Regions from separate parts of the Homo sapiens genome. Here region 1 is linked to region 2. Evidence: fine-mapped expression QTL. A gene starts in region 2. The other region holds a variant in brackets. All regions are shown on one strand. Distances are between the middles of the regions. Region 1 holds the start of FDX2 (ferredoxin 2). Region 2 holds the start of ICAM4 (intercellular adhesion molecule 4 (Landsteiner-Wiener blood group)).

The links. PIP is the estimated chance that this variant, and not a neighbour inherited with it, causes the effect.
Region 1: its variant is fine-mapped to the expression of ICAM4 in whole blood (INTERVAL, PIP 0.95).

What each region holds. Positions count from the first base shown.
Region 1 is chr19:10,314,641-10,325,428 of GRCh38, forward strand. It overlaps FDX2 (ferredoxin 2), which reads right to left and starts at 1,375. Exons shown (of 5, transcript NM_001397406.1): 1 at 1,212-1,375; 2 at 1,065-1,119; 3 at 746-852. The coding sequence starts at 1,356. RAVER1 (ribonucleoprotein, PTB binding 1) reads right to left here. Exons shown (of 13, transcript NM_133452.3): 4 at 8,735-8,926; 5 at 8,505-8,634; 6 at 8,005-8,099; 7 at 6,891-6,978; 8 at 6,408-6,619; 9 at 6,015-6,311; 10 at 4,526-4,600; 11 at 3,589-3,732; 12 at 3,050-3,133; 13 at 1,572-2,960. The coding sequence ends at 2,814. It overlaps FDX2-ZGLP1 (FDX2-ZGLP1 readthrough), which reads right to left and starts at 1,375. Exons shown (of 9, transcript NR_176052.1): 1 at 1,212-1,375; 2 at 1,065-1,119; 3 at 746-913. RefSeq lists silencers at 1,010-1,129, 2,263-2,454, 5,518-5,731. The variant T/TA (reference allele first, on the strand shown) is at 5,864.
Region 2 is chr19:10,281,855-10,291,062 of GRCh38, forward strand. It overlaps ICAM4 (intercellular adhesion molecule 4 (Landsteiner-Wiener blood group)), which reads left to right and starts at 5,101. Exons shown (of 3, transcript NM_001544.5): 1 at 5,101-5,552; 2 at 5,682-5,984; 3 at 6,132-6,666. The coding sequence starts at 5,159. The coding sequence ends at 6,250. ICAM1 (intercellular adhesion molecule 1) reads left to right here. Exons shown (of 7, transcript NM_000201.3): 3 at 1,627-1,932; 4 at 2,179-2,466; 5 at 2,549-2,803; 6 at 2,929-3,174; 7 at 3,261-4,761. The coding sequence ends at 3,433. ICAM5 (intercellular adhesion molecule 5) reads left to right here and starts at 8,098. Exons shown (of 11, transcript NM_003259.4): 1 at 8,098-8,271. The coding sequence starts at 8,190. LIMASI (lncRNA inflammatory and mucous response associated, antisense to ICAM1) reads right to left here and starts at 1,596. Exons shown (of 4, transcript XR_007067138.1): 1 at 1,467-1,596. It also overlaps ICAM4-AS1. RefSeq lists enhancers at 4,669-4,718, 4,773-5,742, 5,089-5,228 and a silencer at 6,953-7,022.

The DNA of each region.
Region 1 (10,788 bases), 34 kb after region 2:
TTCAGCTGGGCTGAGGGGAATGGGATTGTTAGGGACATGACATTTACACTGAGGTCTGAAGGATGAGAAAGAGCCAGAATGTTTGCTGGGAAAGCACTTCAGACAGAGGGAACAGCAAATGTAAAGGCCCCGAAGCAGGAATGAGCTTGGTTGTTTGAGGAACCACAAGAAAGCCAGTGTGGGCTGGGCGCGGTGGCTCATGCCTGTAATCCCAGCATTTTGGGAGGCTGAGGCGGGTGGATCACCTTTCAGGAGTTTGAGACCAGCCTGGCCAATGTGGTGAAACCCCGTCTCTACTAAAAATACAAAAATTAGCTGGGCTTGGTGGTGGGCGCCTGTAATCCCAGCTAGTCTGGAGGCTGGGGCAGGAGAAACGCTTGAACCCGGGAGGTGGAGGTTGCAGTGAGCTGAGGTGCAGTAAGCCATTGCACTCCAGCCTGGGCAACAAGAGTGAAACTCCATCTCAAAACAACAACAACAAAAAGAAAGCCAATGTGGCTAGAATACAGGGAGGAAGGGGGAAGAGAACACAAAATCCTGGGAGCCAGGAGTCCTAGTGATCTCTAATAAATGCTTAACAAATAAGAGCTTGGCAACAGATGAGGCCATGGTGAGGGGTTTGGATTTTAGTCCATATTTGGTGGGAAAAAGACGTGAAGAGACACACCTAATTTGTGGGTTTTTTTTTTTTTTTTTTTGGACAAATGTATAAGGACCTCCTTAATTCCCTCTGCCCGGTTCCTACCTTCCAGGTCCACCCCGTGGCGCTGGGCCAGGTGAAGAACATTGTCCCCGACTCTGCCACTCACTGGGATCCGCTGGCCTGAGCGGTCTACGAACACCACGTTCACCCTGGGGACAGATGGAAGTGCGAATGCCGAACTGGATGATGGGCTCAGGGCCCGGGTAGAATCTAGGGTTAGGAAGTAGGAATTGAGGCTTGACGCACAGGTACTGAATAGGGCAAAGCAGAAGGGGGACCTCGAGATGAAGCTACAGGGCAAGATGGGGACCAGAGGAATTCCGTGGGATGAGGAATGGGGGACTTGGCCCCCTGCACTCACACGTCCCCGGGCCGCTCCGGGCCGCCCGCGTCCTCCTCTCCAGCCGGGCGCGAGCCTGGAAAACACGGTTCGGTGAGCGGCTGCGCCGAGCCCCGCCCCGCCGGCATCTGACGGATTAACGCTGCCCGCCCCGGGCGCCCCAGGTACCTGTCGCTTGAAACTTTCTGGTTGTCCCCAGCGCCACCCCCTCCCCCGACCCGGAAGTGCCCCCAGGTCTGTTCCACCAGGTGCCCCTGGCAGCCTGCAGTAGAACCCTGGCACTCACGCCTCCCCGGGCCATGGAGGCGGCCATGACATGCATCACGTGACTCACCGACTGAGCATGCGCCGCGCCAGGGAGGCGAGGGAAAGCCCATAATCAATGGAACATAAGCGCAGATGTTTGCTTAGGGCCTGCGGTGACCAGGTGGGAAGAGCAGGGCGGAATCCATCTCAGGTAAACCCGCGGGGCCATCCCAGACCTCCCACTCAAGCCCACTGTTTGTCCCAAGAACCAGCCAACTCTGATTTCTTTAAAACCATTTACTTACAAACTTTAATTCAGCAAAGGTCCGTGTGGGGAGACTGGGGTGGGGTCGGGGGAATAGTCCCCTTGGAGTGGATGTGGACCCCCAGAGTCAAGGGAGGGAAGCTGGTGGCCCAGTTGGCTGGGGGCAAGGCCCAGGGTCACCTCAGGTCGACAGGTCCTGCTGGTGGGCGGGCCCAGAGTTTATCTTCATGGAGTGCTGGTTTCTGGCACTGGGCTGGAAGGAGGCCAGCTCCAGGGATCTGGCCGGGGGTGGGCAGGCAGAATTCAAGAATTCATCTTCAACAAGCGAGTGACAGCAGAGGCTCCGGGAGATGGGCACAATGTCCGACTCCCACAGACAGACAGCAGGGGACTGGCAGAGAAAGCCCATCTCTGCACGGAGGCCCGGGTAGGAGGGGGTGGTGGGGCCGGTTCGCCAAGATGAAGGCTTTCCCCTTCTACTGTCCCCAGGGTGGAGATCCTGGGTAGGGTGGCCCAATCCCTAGGCCAGAGCTGTTTGGTCCATAGTCAAGCTCCCAGAGCTTGGCATCTGTGGCTCTGGCCAGCAGGGCCTGGGGCCCAGCTTTTAAGGCATCAGAAGGGGAGGGGGCTGCGGCAGGGACCCCGGGCCCCACGGCTGGGGTATAGGCCAGATGGGCAGGCAGGGGCAGGAGACAGCCATGCCTGCAGCAAATGTGGGAAAAACAGCTGTTTCAAACCGCAAGGTGTGGAATGGTGGCCCGGACAGGCCGGGCCTTGAAGGAATCAGAGCTGGGGGCTGTCCGGGGTGGTTTGAAAAATAAAACTTAGAAAAGGAAACAGAAGTCAGTTGTCAAAGTTAAAAAAAAAGGAGACAGTCTCTGTATCTTCACGGGAGGTCAGGGAAACCTCCAAGGCACTCGAAAGGCCAAAATTACAGGAGCAATGAGGCAGGAGGGCTCCGGAGAGACGGGCACAGCGGAGGAGGAGATGGGGGGAGGGAGGGAGAGCAGGCCGGGGCCCCTCTCTCTTAAGGCTGCAGGGTTTCAGCGTGGGGAGCAAGCCAGAGACATAATGAGGCCTCCAGACTCCCCCACACCCCTTGGGCTCCTGGGGCTCCGGCTGATTGGTCAGTAAAGTCTTTCAGAGATTTTTCTATTACCGAAAGAGAGAAAATGGTTTAAAAAAAACACAAAACAAAACATCAGAAAACCCAAAAGCGATTTGGTGCAGGCCCTTGAGTTATCTCTGGTGCCAGCCACTTAGAAAATCCTCTTCCGCTTCAGGTAGGAGTCCGCGTAGTGGCCGCCGAGGCCCTGGGAGTGCTGGCCCACATAGCTGCCTTCTGGGCTGGGCTCGGGCGAGGGCAGCAGGTGGGCAAAGCTGCGTTTCTGGCCGCCCAGTGGGGTCTGGAGACAGAGGGCAGGGCGGGGCGGGTCAGGGGCCGCTGGGGGGCCGGGGCTTCCCAGCCCTGCATGTCCCCACCCCCTGCCCGTACCTTCAGCAGGTGGCTGTGACCATTAGGCCCGGGGCTGAGGCCCAGGAGCCCTTCTCCGGACCCCAGCGGGGAAGAGCCGATTGCCTGGGAGAAATGGAGAGGTGGAACAGGTCACTCCCTGGGGGCCAGAGGAAGCACCCACCCCGCCCCCCTGCCACTGCCCCCCAGCCCTGAGGGAAAGCGAACAGTTTCAGGTTCAAATCTTGCTTCTGCTACTTTCTAGCTATAAGACCTAGGGCCAATTGCTCCATTTTATTTGAGCCTCGGTTTTCTCATCTGTCAGATGGGGCCAGTAGCACCCACAGCCTGGGCTGTAGAGAGAGGAAGTGACAGAAAGCCCGGAATGCTGGCAGTGCTAGGTGCTTGATGCAGAGTGGATGGAGGACAATAGGCTGTTGCTACTCCACCCTGAGCAAGACCAACCCCTGCCACCACCCCAGCTTTGGCCTGGGCACCGAGGGTTACAGAGCCCCGGTGGCAGGCACCCCCAAATCCTAGCTGTCCCAGGGGGCCTGTGCTTGGCCAGAGAGGTTCCTCACCTTACTGAGGTGGCTCTGCTTGAGGCCAGCCTGCAGGCCGCTGGTGAAGTAGGAAGTGGGCGAGCCTGAATAGAAGTGAGACAGGGGGCCCCCGCCACTCCCACCGCTGCTCCGTTCGCCGAAGCCACTGGGCGGGGGGGACATCTGTAGAAGAAGGGCCGGTGGAGTGAAGCAGACAATTGTAGTACCCAGCCCTTTGTATACAATCTTCCCTCTGCCTCCCAGGTTCAAGCGATTCTCCTGCCTCAGCCTCCCGAGTAGCTGGGATTACAGGCATGCGCCACCATGCCCAGCTAATTTTTTGTATTTTTAGTAGAGACGGGGTTTCTCCATGTTGGTCAGACTGGTCTCACACTCACGACCTCAGGTGATCCGCCCACCTCGGCCTCCCAAAGTGCTGGGATTACAGGCGTGAGCCACCATGCCCGGCAGTTCTGGGCTTTGCAAAGACTAGCTTTGGCTAATAGGACTGAGGAGAGCTGGCACGTGGGTACCCGCCTCCTCTTCCTCCTCCAGGAACCCAGGGATCATCACCGCACGAATGGGCACACAGAAACTGTTCCAGCCTGTGGACGCCAAATATGTGAGGCCACATAGCTCACTGAGACCCAGGTGAGTGCCGGGGACCGCCCACTGCCCCATAGAGTGGCAAGAAGTAATACAATGCCTGGCATGGTATGGTGGCTCATGCCTGTGATCCTAGCACTTTGGGAGGCCAAAGTGGGAGGATTGCTTGAGCCCAGGAGTTTGAGGCCACAGTGAGCTATCATGGAGCCACTGCACTCCAGCCTGGGCAACACAGTGAGATCCTGTCTTAAAAAAACCCACAAAGAACACACAAAATACAAGGTCTGCTGTTCCAGGCTACTAAGTCATGGCACAGCCTGTCATGTAGTAAAAGCTGATTGCTACACATGCCATACCAGGTGGCTCTTACCTTGTGTCGGCTGGGTCCGTGAGGCCCAAGGGCTGGTTCCCGTGGGTGGGAGAAGAGCCGCCGAGGTCCCATGTCCTGAATGAAAGCGGGAGAAGCACATTGGGTTGGAGTCTGTCCCAGCCTCACCCCTGGCTGAACTCCATGGCAGAGCTGTCATCAGGGAAGACAGTCCCCACCACTCTGGGACCAGGAAGAGGCAAATTTGGGGCTGGATGCAGCTTGGCAGGGATGGCTGCTGTGAAGGGGGGTGCCCCCCATGGGCCTAAGTGTTTGGAGTTTCCCAGGCAAGCTGGGAATTCGAGCTGTGTGGACTCTTGCAGTTTTCCTGTGTTGGCGTTAGTTCCTGTTGTTATTTGTTTGAAACACAGAGGGGGCCAAACATCACCCAGGTGACCTGTGGGCGGCCAGTTTGCAATTTCTTTCTTTTTTTTTTTTAAACGGAGTTTTGCTCTTGTTGCCCAGGCTGGAGTGTAATGGCACAATCTTGGCTCACCACAACCTCCGCCTCCCAGGTTCAAGTGATTCTCCTGCCTCAGCCTCCCTAGTAACTGGGATTACAGGCATGTCTACCACACCTGGCTAATTTTGTATTTTTAGTATAAAACATAAATTATATTTTATATTATATATGAAATATATATTTTATTATATATTTTATAATATATAATTTCTCCATGTTGGTCAGGCTGGTCTTGAACTCTTGACCTCAGGTGATCTGCCCGCCTCGGCCTCCCAAAGTGCTGGGATTATAGGCATGAGCCACCGTGCCTGGCCCAGTTTGCAATTTCTGACCTGCCAAGGAGGTTGGCATCATAGAAGGACCAAATCTCCAGGGGCACAGACAGGAATCAAAGGTGGGAGAGAGGGATAGAAAGGGCAAGCCCTGTCTCTGGGGAGAGACAGTGTGGCCTAAGTCCTCTTGGGAGAGAAAGACAGACGCAGGATGACAGACAGACTGAGACCCAAGATCCTCCAGGGCTCGAGAATGGACAGACAGGCAGGTGGACCGGAAGCAGGGGGTGATGTGCAGACAGACGGGAAACTTTAAGGGCATGAGGCTGGGCGCGGTGGCTCTTGCCTGTAATCCCAGTACTTTGGGAGGCTGAGGCGGGTGGCTCACTTGAGGTCAGGAGTTTGAGACCAGCCTGGACAACACAATGAGACTCCGTCTCTACCACAAATTTAAAAATTAGCTGGGCATGGAGGTGCGTGCCTGTGGTCCCAGCTCCTCAGGAGACTGAGGTGTGAGGATCGCTTGAGCCCAAGAGGTTGAGGCTGCAGTGAGCTATGATCGCACCACTGCACTCCAGCCAGGGCAGCAGAGGGAGACCCTGTCTC[T/TA]AAAAAAAAAAAAAAAAAAAAGCAGAGACCATATCTGGCACGTTCCCTGCCGCCTCCCTAGCACATGGCCTGGCATAGTCAATCCTAGAGAAATATCAGTTTGGAGAATGATTTGGCCTTAGGGGACAGAGAGCTGCAGCCAGGCACTCACCGAGGGGTAGTCGAAGCTGTAGCTGTCAGACAGTCCTGGTTCGGGGGGCAGGCGGGCGCTGCTGAGGGGGCTGAGCAGGCGGGACTTGAGCTGGAAGGCTTTGCTGCTGCTGCTGCCACCTCCAGGGGCTGGGGGGTTAGTTGGGGGGCCCTCAGCTGGGCGGCGGCTTCTCCCGGCGCCTCCCCAGCCCCGGGCCTCCTTACCCGCCAGGTTGCTGGCCGGGAGCAGGCTGTGTAGGTTCAGGTAGGGATTCAGGGGAATCCGGTAGTCCTTGGGGGGCTCCCCCAGCAGTGAGACCTGTGGCGGGAAGGCAGGATTCGAGAGGGCCCCCGGGAGAGGGAACCCTGCGGAACAGGAGGCTGGTGTGGTGCCGCGCGCAGGGCAGGGCCTTACCCCAGGGGGCGTCGGCAGAGGCCCACTGTCTTTCTGGAGGCCTCTGAGGCCAGAGCCTCGGAGCCCCACAGGGGCGGGGGGAGGAGTGAGCTGGGCCGCTGGGGGACCCAAGCCCAGGGCCTCCCGGTCACCCCCAGCAGGGCCAAGCACGGATGGCAGCAGGGGTGGTGGCTTCCCTCGCCGGGGCGGCAGCTCCGGGGGCAGGCCCCCTCCTAGGGAGGGAAGGAGGATTTCAGGGGCCCAGGCTCACAGGACCCCTCTCCCCAGGGCCCTCCAGCTCCCACCTGGACCAGGGCCCAGGGGTCAAGAGACAAATCCATGCTGGCCACTGAGCAGAGCTCATCCCTGGGCCCTGAGTGGAGGGCACCCAACTGATGGACAAGGGCGCTGGGACCCAGAGGTTGGGTCACTCACCCGAGGCCACGTAGCAGGGAAGGAAGGGGAAGTGGCTGGGGGACACCGTGTGGGCAGGGTCTGCGTTACCTGCAGGCAGCTCCCCGAGGAGGGGGTTGGCTGGCTGGGCCCCAGGCTGGAGGGCGCCCAGGGGTGAGTCTCCCAGGATGCCGGGCTTCTAGGGACAGAGCACAGACAGTTGCAGATGGGGGCAGGGTGGCCCAGGGAAGCAGACAGGTGTGGCCCAGAGTCTTGGCAGACACACCCCAACTCCAGGGCACGGCCGATCCTGGGCAGACAGGCACAGGGTTCCCCAGTGCCCGCCACACTCCAACTCTATCACTGTCCCATCAGCCATGGTGACCGAGGGTCTCCTGAGCTCCAGGCCCCAGTTCCCTGGCCAATGATTGCAGCACAGTATCAACTGCAGCCACATGGAATGGGACAGCCACACAGTGTTTCAGCCACTTTTAGTCACAGAAGGCCAGACCCACAGGCTCACATATTCTGTCAGTTACCACCAGACAGACACACCTGACTTAGAATCCAGGGAACCACACCAGACAGGACGGAGCATGGGTGTATGTCTATGTGTGTGTGTGTCTGTGTGTGTGTGTGCGTGTATATCTGTGTCTTTGTTTCTGTGTGCATGAGTCTGTCTTGTGTCTATATGTGTGTCTGTGTCTATGTGTGTGTCTTTGTCTTATGTCTTTGTGTGTCTATGTCTCTGTGTGTATATTTGCATCTTTGTATGTGTGAGTCTATATGTATACCTGTGTTTCTAGGTGTGCGTGTGTGTGTGTGCACACACTGAGGGGATAGACCTGGAGTTTTTTCCCAGGCATGTCTATAGAGCTTCCGAGCAGAGTCTATTCACAAACTGGTGCCCAGCAGCGGCGCTCCCAGCCCACACCCAGTTTCAGGCTGTAAATGGGCGTGTCCAGGTCCCCTGACCCCACCCCAGGCACCAAGTCCAGGGGCGCTCTCAGAATGGAGGGAAAGATGGCGAACCATCATGAGCAATTGCCAGAGGGGGATGGGGATGTGGGTGGGAAAGGCAGGGGTTTGGGGGAGTCGCCCTCACCCTGGTTCTGCGCCCCCAGGGCACAGCCAGAGGTCCCCCCACCCCACCGATCGCACCAGCTGTGTTGAAAAGAGCCTGTAGGGGCTGTAGAGCAGTGGGTGAGGGGGATGCGTGTGTTACCTTCTGGCCCTGGGTCTGCAGGGCGAGCTGCAACAGCGCCGTGGACAGGGCTGGCCCATTGAGCAGCGGCATGGCTGGGGGGGCACCCAGGAGGCCTGGAGGGAGACATAGGAGGATGTGTGGGGGTCCCTGTGTCCTCCCTGCCCCACCTCACGAAACACAGCCCTGAACCCATTGATGGGGCAGGAAACTGACACTCTGGGGCCGGGGGGTGGGCAGTGGACTTGCCCAAAGGAAGGGCCTAGAAGGGGCAGAGGCTACTCCAGTGAAGGTCAGCCCCCTCTTGTCAGCACCCCACCTCACTGCAGGCTGCTGTGTGGCCCTGGTCCCGGCCCCCAGTTGTGGACAGCAGCAGCCCCCGCTATGACTCCATACTCCCCCTCGGCCCTACTCCTGGGGCTCCTGTCACTGCAGCCAAGATGAGCAGTTTCGGGAAGTGCCGGGGGCAGCGCTGCAGCCCCTGTTCTGCACAGTGGGGCCCCTGTCCAGCCCCACCTTACCCTGCTTCCCCCCCGCACTGCCATGGAGCAGGGGGTTGAGCAGCAGCTGGAGGGACGCGGATGGGCCCAGGTTGTTGAGCAGCTGCAGGATGTTGGGCTCGGGGAGGAGTCCCTTCCCCCGATTGAGGGCCTGCAGGAAGGAACAGAAGCAGCTCAGAGTGCCGCTGGGGCCCTGACATCCCCATGGGGCTCCCATCCCCACCCCGCCACCTCTGCCCGCACAGGCTCACCGTGGCCTGGGCAGCGATGAGAGCGGCCAGCATACTGCGGCCGGGGGGCCCAGGGGCGCAGAAGGAGACTCGCAGGTGGCTGCCCCCCAGGGACAGGCCGTCCGCCTGCTGCTGTGCCTCCTCCGCCATCTCAGCCGTCTCATACTCCAGCACCGCGAAGCCCTTCAGCTGCCCATCCTGGCCGCACGCCAGCTGCCGGAGGAAGGCAGGCAGTCATGAGCATCTGGGCAGCAGTGACTGCACCACCCCGGGAAGTGACAACCGTAACCAGACTCAGCTGCCCCATAAGGGTGAACTCCACGCCAGGCCTCCACTGCCCTGTGCCTCATTCCTGCATCAGCTCATCTGATTTTCCCAATGACCCTGGGAGGCTGCATCATACCCATTTCTCAGAGAAGGCAACTGAGGCACGGAGAGGTCAGCGCACCCAAGGCCACACAGCTGGAGGGAGGGCGGAGCTGGGAGCCACCTCACCAACAAAGCCAAGGCCACGGGCGGATGCGGTGGCTCACACCTGTAATCCCAGCACTTTGGGAGGCCGAGGCGGGCAGATAACCTGAGGTCGGGAGTTCGAGACCAGCCTGACCAACATGGAGAAACCCCGTCTCTACTAAAAATACAAAATTAGCCAGGCGTGGTGGCACATGCCTGTATTCCCAGCTACTTGGGAGGCTGAGGCAGAGGCAAGAGAGTCACTTGAACCTGTGAGGCAGAGGTTGCGGTGGGCCGAGATCGCGCCACTGCACTCCAGCCTGGGCAACAAGAGCAAAACTCCATCTCAAAAAAAAAAAAAAAAAAGAGATAATCAGCAACGGGTGGGGAAGGAAGGGCTCTCGTTCCAGACAGTGGCCAAGCCAGGTAGCAGTGCTAAGGGAAGTGGTTGGGCTGGGCACCGGCACTTGCTGAATGCCCGGGCAGCAAAGGTGCAGGTAGCAGCCCTTCACCTCTGCCCACGCCCTGTGCCAAGGTCTGGGCACAGATCTCCCATAACCAAACCTGTCGGCTTTTGTTTTGTTTTGTTTTTTTTGAGACAGAGTCTTGCTCTGTCACCCCGGAGTGCAGTGATGTGAACTTAGCTTACCGTAACCTCCACCTCCTGGGTTCAAGTGATTCTCCTGCCTCAGCCTCCTGGTAGCTGGGATTACAGGTGTGCACCACCACGCCCAGCTAATTTTTGTATTTTTAGTAGAAATGAGGTTTCACCATGTCGGCAAGGCTGGTCTTGAACTCCTGACCTCAAGCGATCCGCCTGCCTTGGCCTCCCAAAGTGCTGGATTACAGGCGTGAGCCACTGTGCCCGGCCATAAACACACCCATCTTAGGGATGAACAGAGAGAGACTCAGAGGGGTCACAGAGTGATCAAGGCCACACAATTCCTAAGTCGAGGGACTGATGTGTGAACCTCAAGCTGCTTCACTGTCAAGCCCACCCTCCATTCAGCTGGGTCACCTAACATTAAAGGTGGGCTCCTCGGAGGACATCACTTCAACGCCTGCTACTCATCAGATGCTCAACAAATGTTTGGTGAGACCAGGCCCAGTGGCTCGAATCTATAATCCCAGCTCTTTGGGAGGCAAAGGCAGGAGGATCGTTTGAGCACAGGAGTTTCAGACCAGCCTGGGCAACATAGGGAGACCCCATCTTCACATAATTTTTTTTTTTTTTGAGGGAGTCTCGCTCTGTTGCCCAGGCTGGAGTGCGGTGGCATGATCTTGGCTCACTGCAACCTCCACCTCCCTGGTTCAATCAATTCTCCTGCCTCAGCTTCCCGAGTAGCTGGGATTAAAGGCACCTACCACCACGCCTGGCTAATTTTTTTTCTATTTTTAATAGAGACAGGGTTTTTGTTTTTTGTTTTGTTTTTTTTGAGACGGAGTCTCGCTCTGCCACCCAGACTGGAATGCAGTAGTGGGATCTTGGCTCACCACAACCTCTGTCTCCCAGGTTCAGGTGATTCTTCTGCCTCAGCCTCCCAAATAGCTGGGACCACAGGCACATGCCACCACACCCAGCTAATTTTTTTTTTTGTATTTTTAATGGAGATAGGGTTTCA
Region 2 (9,208 bases):
CTCAGCCTCTCAAGTAGCTGGGACTACAGGCACACAACACCACGCCTGGCTAATTTTTGTATTTTTAGGTAGAGACGGGGTTTCACTATATTGGCCAGGCTGGTCTTGAACTCCTGACCTCAGGTGATCCGCCTGCCTCGGCCCCCCAAAGTGTTGGGATTACAGGCGTGAGCCACCACACGCAGCCTTTTTGTTATTAGACTCTGTCATTACTGACTTTTTTTTTTTTTTAATAGAAACAGGGTCTTTCTTTCCCAGGCTAAAGTACAGTGGCATGATCACAGTTCACTATAGCCTTAAACTCCTGGGCTCAAGTGATCCTCCTGCCTCAGCCTCCCAAGTAGCAGGGACTACAGGTGTGCACCACCACACCCAGTTAACCATTCATTCATTCATTCATTCATTTATTTTGAGATGGAGTCTCGCTCTGTCACCTAGGCTGGAGTGCAGTGGCACGATCTCAGCTCACTGCAACCTCCACCTCCCAGGTTCAAGAGATTCTCCTGCCTCAGCCTCCCGAGTAGCTGAGACTACAGGCGTGCACCACCATGCCAGACTAATTTTTGTATTTTTAATAGAGACGGGGTTTCACTCTGTTGGTCAGGCTTATCTCGAACTCCTGACTTCGTGGATCCACCCTCCTTGGCCTCCCAAAGTGCTGGGATTAAAGGCGTGAGCCACCGCGCCCTGCCAACCTTTTTTTAATTTTTCTTAGAGATGGGGGTCTCCCTATGTTGCCCAGGCTTGTCTTGAACTCCTGGCCTCAAGTGACCCTCTTGCCTTGGCCTCACAAAGTGCTAGGATTACAGCCTGAGCCATCACACCTGGCCAACAGGTTTTTTTTTTTGTTTTGTTTTGTTTTTTAAAGAATGTCTAGGCCAGGCTCATTTACTTTCACCTGTAATCCCAGCACTTTGGGAGGCCGGGGTGGGCAGATCACTTGAGGTCAGGAATTCGAGACCAGCCTGGGCAACATGCTGAAACCCCGTTTCTACTAAAAATACAAAAATTAGCTGGGTGTGGTGACACGTGCCTGTAATCCCAGCTACTCAGGAGGTTGAGGCAGGAGAATTGCTTGAACCCAGGAGGCAGAGGTTGCAGTGAGCCAAGATCATGCCATCACCCTCCAGCCTGGGCGACAGAAGGAGACTCAGTCTAAAAACTTAATTAATTAATTAATTAAAAATAAAAATACAAAAATTAACCTGGTGTGGTGGTGTGTGCCTGTAATCTAAGCTACTCAGGAGGCTGAGGCAGGAGAATCCCCTGAATCCCAGAGGCAGAGGTTGCAGTGAGCCAAGATCGAGCCACTGTTTGCCCAGTCTAGTGCACTGGGCTGCTGAATTTATTTGACCAGACACCTAGCAATAGACTTTGAAGTTCTTTTCCACTTTTCACTCTAAGATGCTGCTGTCATGAATAAGGAATATTTTGATCCCCTTCACAAACACTCGGGGCCCTCTTACCAGTTTTCACTGAAGATCTTGACATTCCTATCTGCTTAGGTGTCTGGGCGTGTTTGGGGGAGATACTGAAGAGGTAGGGCTCCCAGGCAGGTGCAGTTCGTCTGTTAGGCAGGCAGCAAGGTCCACTTCACCAGACACCCCCACCTCTGTTTTCCTGCAGGGACTCCAGAACGGGTGGAACTGGCACCCCTCCCCTCTTGGCAGCCAGTGGGCAAGAACCTTACCCTACGCTGCCAGGTGGAGGGTGGGGCACCCCGGGCCAACCTCACCGTGGTGCTGCTCCGTGGGGAGAAGGAGCTGAAACGGGAGCCAGCTGTGGGGGAGCCCGCTGAGGTCACGACCACGGTGCTGGTGAGGAGAGATCACCATGGAGCCAATTTCTCGTGCCGCACTGAACTGGACCTGCGGCCCCAAGGGCTGGAGCTGTTTGAGAACACCTCGGCCCCCTACCAGCTCCAGACCTTTGGTGAGGATTGAAGAAGCCAGCAGGGAGAAGGTGGGGGTGGGGTATCCTGCAATGCGGTGCCTGTGGCCACAGGATCTTTTGAGATGGGTGTGGCCCCGGCTAAGGGGTGCATGTGTTCTAGGCGTATGTGACCTAGGCTGCTGAGTGGCCCTGGAAGAGGATCTCGCAGGAGGGGGAATGAAATGCCCCAGAGAAGGGCTTCGGGACGTCCATCCCTGTCTGCTCACACCTTTCTTCTCTCCCTAGTCCTGCCAGCGACTCCCCCACAACTTGTCAGCCCCCGGGTCCTAGAGGTGGACACGCAGGGGACCGTGGTCTGTTCCCTGGACGGGCTGTTCCCAGTCTCGGAGGCCCAGGTCCACCTGGCACTGGGGGACCAGAGGTTGAACCCCACAGTCACCTATGGCAACGACTCCTTCTCGGCCAAGGCCTCAGTCAGTGTGACCGCAGAGGACGAGGGCACCCAGCGGCTGACGTGTGCAGTAATACTGGGGAACCAGAGCCAGGAGACACTGCAGACAGTGACCATCTACAGTAAGAAGGGGCAGGGGCGGAGTGGGGCTTCTTGGGGGTGTGACCTGAACCCGGGGCGGGGCTCACTGTGTGCCTATTCCAGGCTTTCCGGCGCCCAACGTGATTCTGACGAAGCCAGAGGTCTCAGAAGGGACCGAGGTGACAGTGAAGTGTGAGGCCCACCCTAGAGCCAAGGTGACGCTGAATGGGGTTCCAGCCCAGCCACTGGGCCCGAGGGCCCAGCTCCTGCTGAAGGCCACCCCAGAGGACAACGGGCGCAGCTTCTCCTGCTCTGCAACCCTGGAGGTGGCCGGCCAGCTTATACACAAGAACCAGACCCGGGAGCTTCGTGTCCTGTGTGAGTGGGGCTGCTGGTCAATGGCCCCTATCCCCCAAGGCCCAATCTCCCTGAAGGTCCCATAAGGTCTTGCCTCCAAGTCCTGCCCCCACCCACCTCCATGTCATCTCATCGTGTTTTTCCAGATGGCCCCCGACTGGACGAGAGGGATTGTCCGGGAAACTGGACGTGGCCAGAAAATTCCCAGCAGACTCCAATGTGCCAGGCTTGGGGGAACCCATTGCCCGAGCTCAAGTGTCTAAAGGATGGCACTTTCCCACTGCCCATCGGGGAATCAGTGACTGTCACTCGAGATCTTGAGGGCACCTACCTCTGTCGGGCCAGGAGCACTCAAGGGGAGGTCACCCGCAAGGTGACCGTGAATGTGCTCTGTGAGTGAGCCGGCGGGCAGAGCTGGGTGGGGGCAGGGGCCATGGACCTAATGCAATCCTCACCGCCTGTTGTATCCTCCCCACAGCCCCCCGGTATGAGATTGTCATCATCACTGTGGTAGCAGCCGCAGTCATAATGGGCACTGCAGGCCTCAGCACGTACCTCTATAACCGCCAGCGGAAGATCAAGAAATACAGACTACAACAGGCCCAAAAAGGGACCCCCATGAAACCGAACACACAAGCCACGCCTCCCTGAACCTATCCCGGGACAGGGCCTCTTCCTCGGCCTTCCCATATTGGTGGCAGTGGTGCCACACTGAACAGAGTGGAAGACATATGCCATGCAGCTACACCTACCGGCCCTGGGACGCCGGAGGACAGGGCATTGTCCTCAGTCAGATACAACAGCATTTGGGGCCATGGTACCTGCACACCTAAAACACTAGGCCACGCATCTGATCTGTAGTCACATGACTAAGCCAAGAGGAAGGAGCAAGACTCAAGACATGATTGATGGATGTTAAAGTCTAGCCTGATGAGAGGGGAAGTGGTGGGGGAGACATAGCCCCACCATGAGGACATACAACTGGGAAATACTGAAACTTGCTGCCTATTGGGTATGCTGAGGCCCCACAGACTTACAGAAGAAGTGGCCCTCCATAGACATGTGTAGCATCAAAACACAAAGGCCCACACTTCCTGACGGATGCCAGCTTGGGCACTGCTGTCTACTGACCCCAACCCTTGATGATATGTATTTATTCATTTGTTATTTTACCAGCTATTTATTGAGTGTCTTTTATGTAGGCTAAATGAACATAGGTCTCTGGCCTCACGGAGCTCCCAGTCCTAATCACATTCAAGGTCACCAGGTACAGTTGTACAGGTTGTACACTGCAGGAGAGTGCCTGGCAAAAAGATCAAATGGGGCTGGGACTTCTCATTGGCCAACCTGCCTTTCCCCAGAAGGAGTGATTTTTCTATCGGCACAAAAGCACTATATGGACTGGTAATGGTTACAGGTTCAGAGATTACCCAGTGAGGCCTTATTCCTCCCTTCCCCCCAAAACTGACACCTTTGTTAGCCACCTCCCCACCCACATACATTTCTGCCAGTGTTCACAATGACACTCAGCGGTCATGTCTGGACATGAGTGCCCAGGGAATATGCCCAAGCTATGCCTTGTCCTCTTGTCCTGTTTGCATTTCACTGGGAGCTTGCACTATGCAGCTCCAGTTTCCTGCAGTGATCAGGGTCCTGCAAGCAGTGGGGAAGGGGGCCAAGGTATTGGAGGACTCCCTCCCAGCTTTGGAAGCCTCATCCGCGTGTGTGTGTGTGTGTATGTGTAGACAAGCTCTCGCTCTGTCACCCAGGCTGGAGTGCAGTGGTGCAATCATGGTTCACTGCAGTCTTGACCTTTTGGGCTCAAGTGATCCTCCCACCTCAGCCTCCTGAGTAGCTGGGACCATAGGCTCACAACACCACACCTGGCAAATTTGATTTTTTTTTTTTTTCCAGAGACGGGGTCTCGCAACATTGCCCAGACTTCCTTTGTGTTAGTTAATAAAGCTTTCTCAACTGCCTCAGCCTTGTGTGAGTTGAGGGGAGGTGTCACATCCAGCTGGAGTCCTTTCTAAGCAGCCACAGCCTGATCCTCCCACTTCCTCCCCCAAGAAAACATTGTGGGTTGATGGCCATACCCTGAGGTTCTGGTCCAAATCGGACTTTCTATGACCTTCTGGGTCTCTAGTGAAAACTAAAGACTCCTCTCCAGAAAAAAACATTTGGTTTCTAATGAGGCCTGGAATCTTATTCTTGACCTGGGGAGCGGAATCCCTTTTTGCAGTACTCCCGGGCCCTCTGTTGGGGCCTCCCCTTCCTCTCCAGGGTGGAGTCGAGGAGGCGGGGCTGCGGGCCTCCTTATCTCTAGAGCCGGCCCTGGCTCTCTGGCGCGGGGCCCCTTAGTCCGGGCTTTTTGCCATGGGGTCTCTGTTCCCTCTGTCGCTGCTGTTTTTTTTGGCGGCCGCCTACCCGGGAGTTGGGAGCGCGCTGGGACGCCGGACTAAGCGGGCGCAAAGCCCCAAGGGTAGCCCTCTCGCGCCCTCCGGGACCTCAGTGCCCTTCTGGGTGCGCATGAGCCCGGAGTTCGTGGCTGTGCAGCCGGGGAAGTCAGTGCAGCTCAATTGCAGCAACAGCTGTCCCCAGCCGCAGAATTCCAGCCTCCGCACCCCGCTGCGGCAAGGCAAGACGCTCAGAGGGCCGGGTTGGGTGTCTTACCAGCTGCTCGACGTGAGGGCCTGGAGCTCCCTCGCGCACTGCCTCGTGACCTGCGCAGGAAAAACACGCTGGGCCACCTCCAGGATCACCGCCTACAGTGAGGGACAGGGGCTCGGTCCCGGCTGGGGTGAGGGGAGGGGGCTGGAAGAGGTGGGGGAAGGGTAGTTGACAGTCGCTCTATAGGGAGCGCCCGCGGACCTCACTCAGAGGCTCCCCCTTGCCTTAGAACCGCCCCACAGCGTGATTTTGGAGCCTCCGGTCTTAAAGGGCAGGAAATACACTTTGCGCTGCCACGTGACGCAGGTGTTCCCGGTGGGCTACTTGGTGGTGACCCTGAGGCATGGAAGCCGGGTCATCTATTCCGAAAGCCTGGAGCGCTTCACCGGCCTGGATCTGGCCAACGTGACCTTGACCTACGAGTTTGCTGCTGGACCCCGCGACTTCTGGCAGCCCGTGATCTGCCACGCGCGCCTCAATCTCGACGGCCTGGTGGTCCGCAACAGCTCGGCACCCATTACACTGATGCTCGGTGAGGCACCCCTGTAACCCTGGGGACTAGGAGGAAGGGGGCAGAGAGAGTTATGACCCCGAGAGGGCGCACAGACCAAGCGTGAGCTCCACGCGGGTCGACAGACCTCCCTGTGTTCCGTTCCTAATTCTCGCCTTCTGCTCCCAGCTTGGAGCCCCGCGCCCACAGCTTTGGCCTCCGGTTCCATCGCTGCCCTTGTAGGGATCCTCCTCACTGTGGGCGCTGCGTACCTATGCAAGTGCCTAGCTATGAAGTCCCAGGCGTAAAGGGGGATGTTCTATGCCGGCTGAGCGAGAAAAAGAGGAATATGAAACAATCTGGGGAAATGGCCATACATGGTGGCTGACGCCTGTAATCCCAGCACTTTGGGAGGCCGAGGCAGGAGAATCGCTTGAGCCCAGGAGTTCGAGACCAGCCTGGACAACATAGTGAGACCCCGTCTATGCAAAAAATACACAAATTAGCCTGGTGTGGTGGCCCGCACCTGTGGTCCCAGCTACCCGGGAGGCTGAGTTGGGAGGATCCTTTGAGCCCTGAAAGTCGAGGTTGCAGTGAGCCTTGATCGTGCCACTGCACTCCAGCCTGGGGGACAGAGCACGACCCTGTCTCCAAAAATAAAATAAAAATAAAAATAAATATTGGCGGGGGAACCCTCTGGAATCAATAAAGGCTTCCTTAACCAGCCTCTGTCCTGTGACCTAAGGGTCCGCATTACTGCCCTTCTTCGGAGGAACTGGTTTGTTTTTGTTGTTGTTGTTGTTTTTGCGATCACTTTCTCCAAGTTCCTTGTCTCCCTGAGGGCACCTGAGGTTTCCTCACTCAGGGCCCACCTGGGGTCCCGAAGCCCCAGACTCTGTGTATCCCCAGCGGGTGTCACAGAAACCTCTCCTTCTGCTGGCCTTATCGAGTGGGATCAGCGCGGGCCGGGGAGAGCCACGGGCAGGGGCGGGGTGGGGTTCATGGTATGGCTTTCCTGATTGGCGCCGCCGCCACCACGCGGCAGCTCTGATTGGATGTTAAGTTTCCTATCCCAGCCCCACCTTCAGACCCTGTGCTTTCCTGGAGGCCAAACAACTGTGGAGCGAGAACTCATCTCCAAAATAACTTACCACGCTGGAGTGAGACCACGAATGGTGGGGAGGGGAGGGTCCCACGGACATATTGAGGGACGTGGATACGCAGAAGAGGTATCCATGTGGTGGCAGCCGGGAAGGGGTGATCAGATGGTCCACAGGGAATATCACAAACTCGAATTCTGACGATGTTCTGGTAGTCACCCAGCCAGATGAGCGCATGGAGTTGGGGGTGGGGGGTGTCAAAGCTTGGGGCCCGGAAGCGGAGTCAAAAGCATCACCCTCGGTCCCTTGTTCTCGCGTGGATGTCAGGGCCCCCACCCACCGAGCAGAAGGCGGACTCAGGGGCGCTCCAGGGTGGCTCGAGCTCACACACGCTGAGTAGACACGTGCCCGCTGCACCCTGGGTAAATACAGACCCGGAGCCGAGCGGATTCTAATTTAGACGCCCGCGAACGCTGCGCGCACGCACACGTGTCCTCGGCTCGCTGGCACTTTCGTCCCGCCCCCTCCGTCGCGTGCGGGAGCTGACCCGGAGGGGTGCTTAGAGGTATGGCTCCGCGGGGTCAAAAGGAGAAGGATCAGTGAGAGAGGCATCCCCACACCCTCCCCTAGAACTGTCCTTTCCCCATCCAGTGCCTCCCAAATCTCTCTTAGTCCCCAAATGTATCCCCGCCCTAAGGGGCGCTGGTGGGAGGAGCTAAATGTGGGGGCGGGGCTCGGAGTCCAGCTTATTATCATGGCATCTCAGCCAGGGCTGGGGTAGGGGTTTGGGAAGGGCAACCCAGCATCCCCCGATCCCAGAGTCGCGGCCGGGGATGACGCGAGAGAGCGTGGTCGCCCCCAGAAGGCCCTGGGCCATCATGCCGGCCTCCACGTAGACCCCAGGGGTCGCTCACTCCTGCCAGCTCGCCTTCACCAAGGCCAGGAGCTTAGCGCACGCTCGCCTCCCGCCCCCCCGCCGCCTCTGCCGCCGCCCCCTCCTTGGAAACCAAGTTACCAACGTTAAACCAATCCCCAAGCGCAACTCTGCCTCCCCCACACCCCACCCGCCGCGCCGCGCGGAGCCGTCCTCTAGCCCAGCTCCTCGGCTCGCGCTCTCCTCGCCTCCTGTGCTTTCCCCGCCGCGGCGATGCCAGGGCCTTCGCCAGGGCTGCGCCGGGCGCTACTCGGCCTCTGGGCTGCTCTGGGCCTGGGGCTCTTCGGCCTCTCAGGTAAGAGCCCCGCTCTGGTTCGGGGTGGACAGGGCGGGGGCGGAGTCCCTGGACCTGAGAAACGGCCTCCTGTCCCTCCCAGCTCTGCCCTCGCCTCGCTCCCACGCCTCTGCCCCCACCTCGAGCCTGAGTCTTCTCCCCTTCCCCCTCCTCCCCAACACACACCCGAGCCCCAGCTTCCTGACTCCTCGATAGCCCCTACCCGCTTCGAGATCCTAGGTGTTCTTCCGCACCCAACCCTTCGCCCTGGAGACCCAGTGTCTCTCCTGTCCGCTCCCCGGGTACCTCCTTACGCTGTGCTGTGCACCATGGTCCACGGACTGGCATCTTCCCCACTCGCGGTCCGCGAAGACTCCATCTCTCCAACTACCCTGACTCAGAGGCGCTGTTCCCGCTCCACCCAGAGCCCTGGCAACCGGGTCCCTCAGCTGTTCCCGCGGTTCCTTCCATGAGCCCAGCCTTGCGTCCCGGCTCCGTGTTCTTCACCGGGTGTAGGGTCCTTCCTGATCCTTGACCCAGCCTCGTCTCTCCTTTGCCCTTGCCGCAAACGCACTCTCCTCGTATCCCGGCATTCTGCCAGGACCCTGAGAACTGGTTCATCCCCCATCCCCCATCCCGGGTCCCCTTCTCTCAGCCTTGCTGTGTTCATCCAAGAACCCACCTTTCCTCTCCTCTACGCCCTCCCCCCATGCTTTCCCGCCGCTCCATCGGCGCTTTGGAGACCATGGCTCTCTGCTACCACGTCCCAGAGACACCCTCGAGGTTTAGACTCTGGGAGTGCGCCTTTAAACCGGAGGCCTGGGCAGGACGCGGGACGCCTGGGTTCTTTCCCTGGCTGCAGCCTCTCCTCCTCCTCCCCGCCCTCTGAGAACCCTTGACTCGACATAGGGGCGCTAAGATGTCAGGGAGTTGGCTCCCCAGGCTCAGCCCGCGTTTC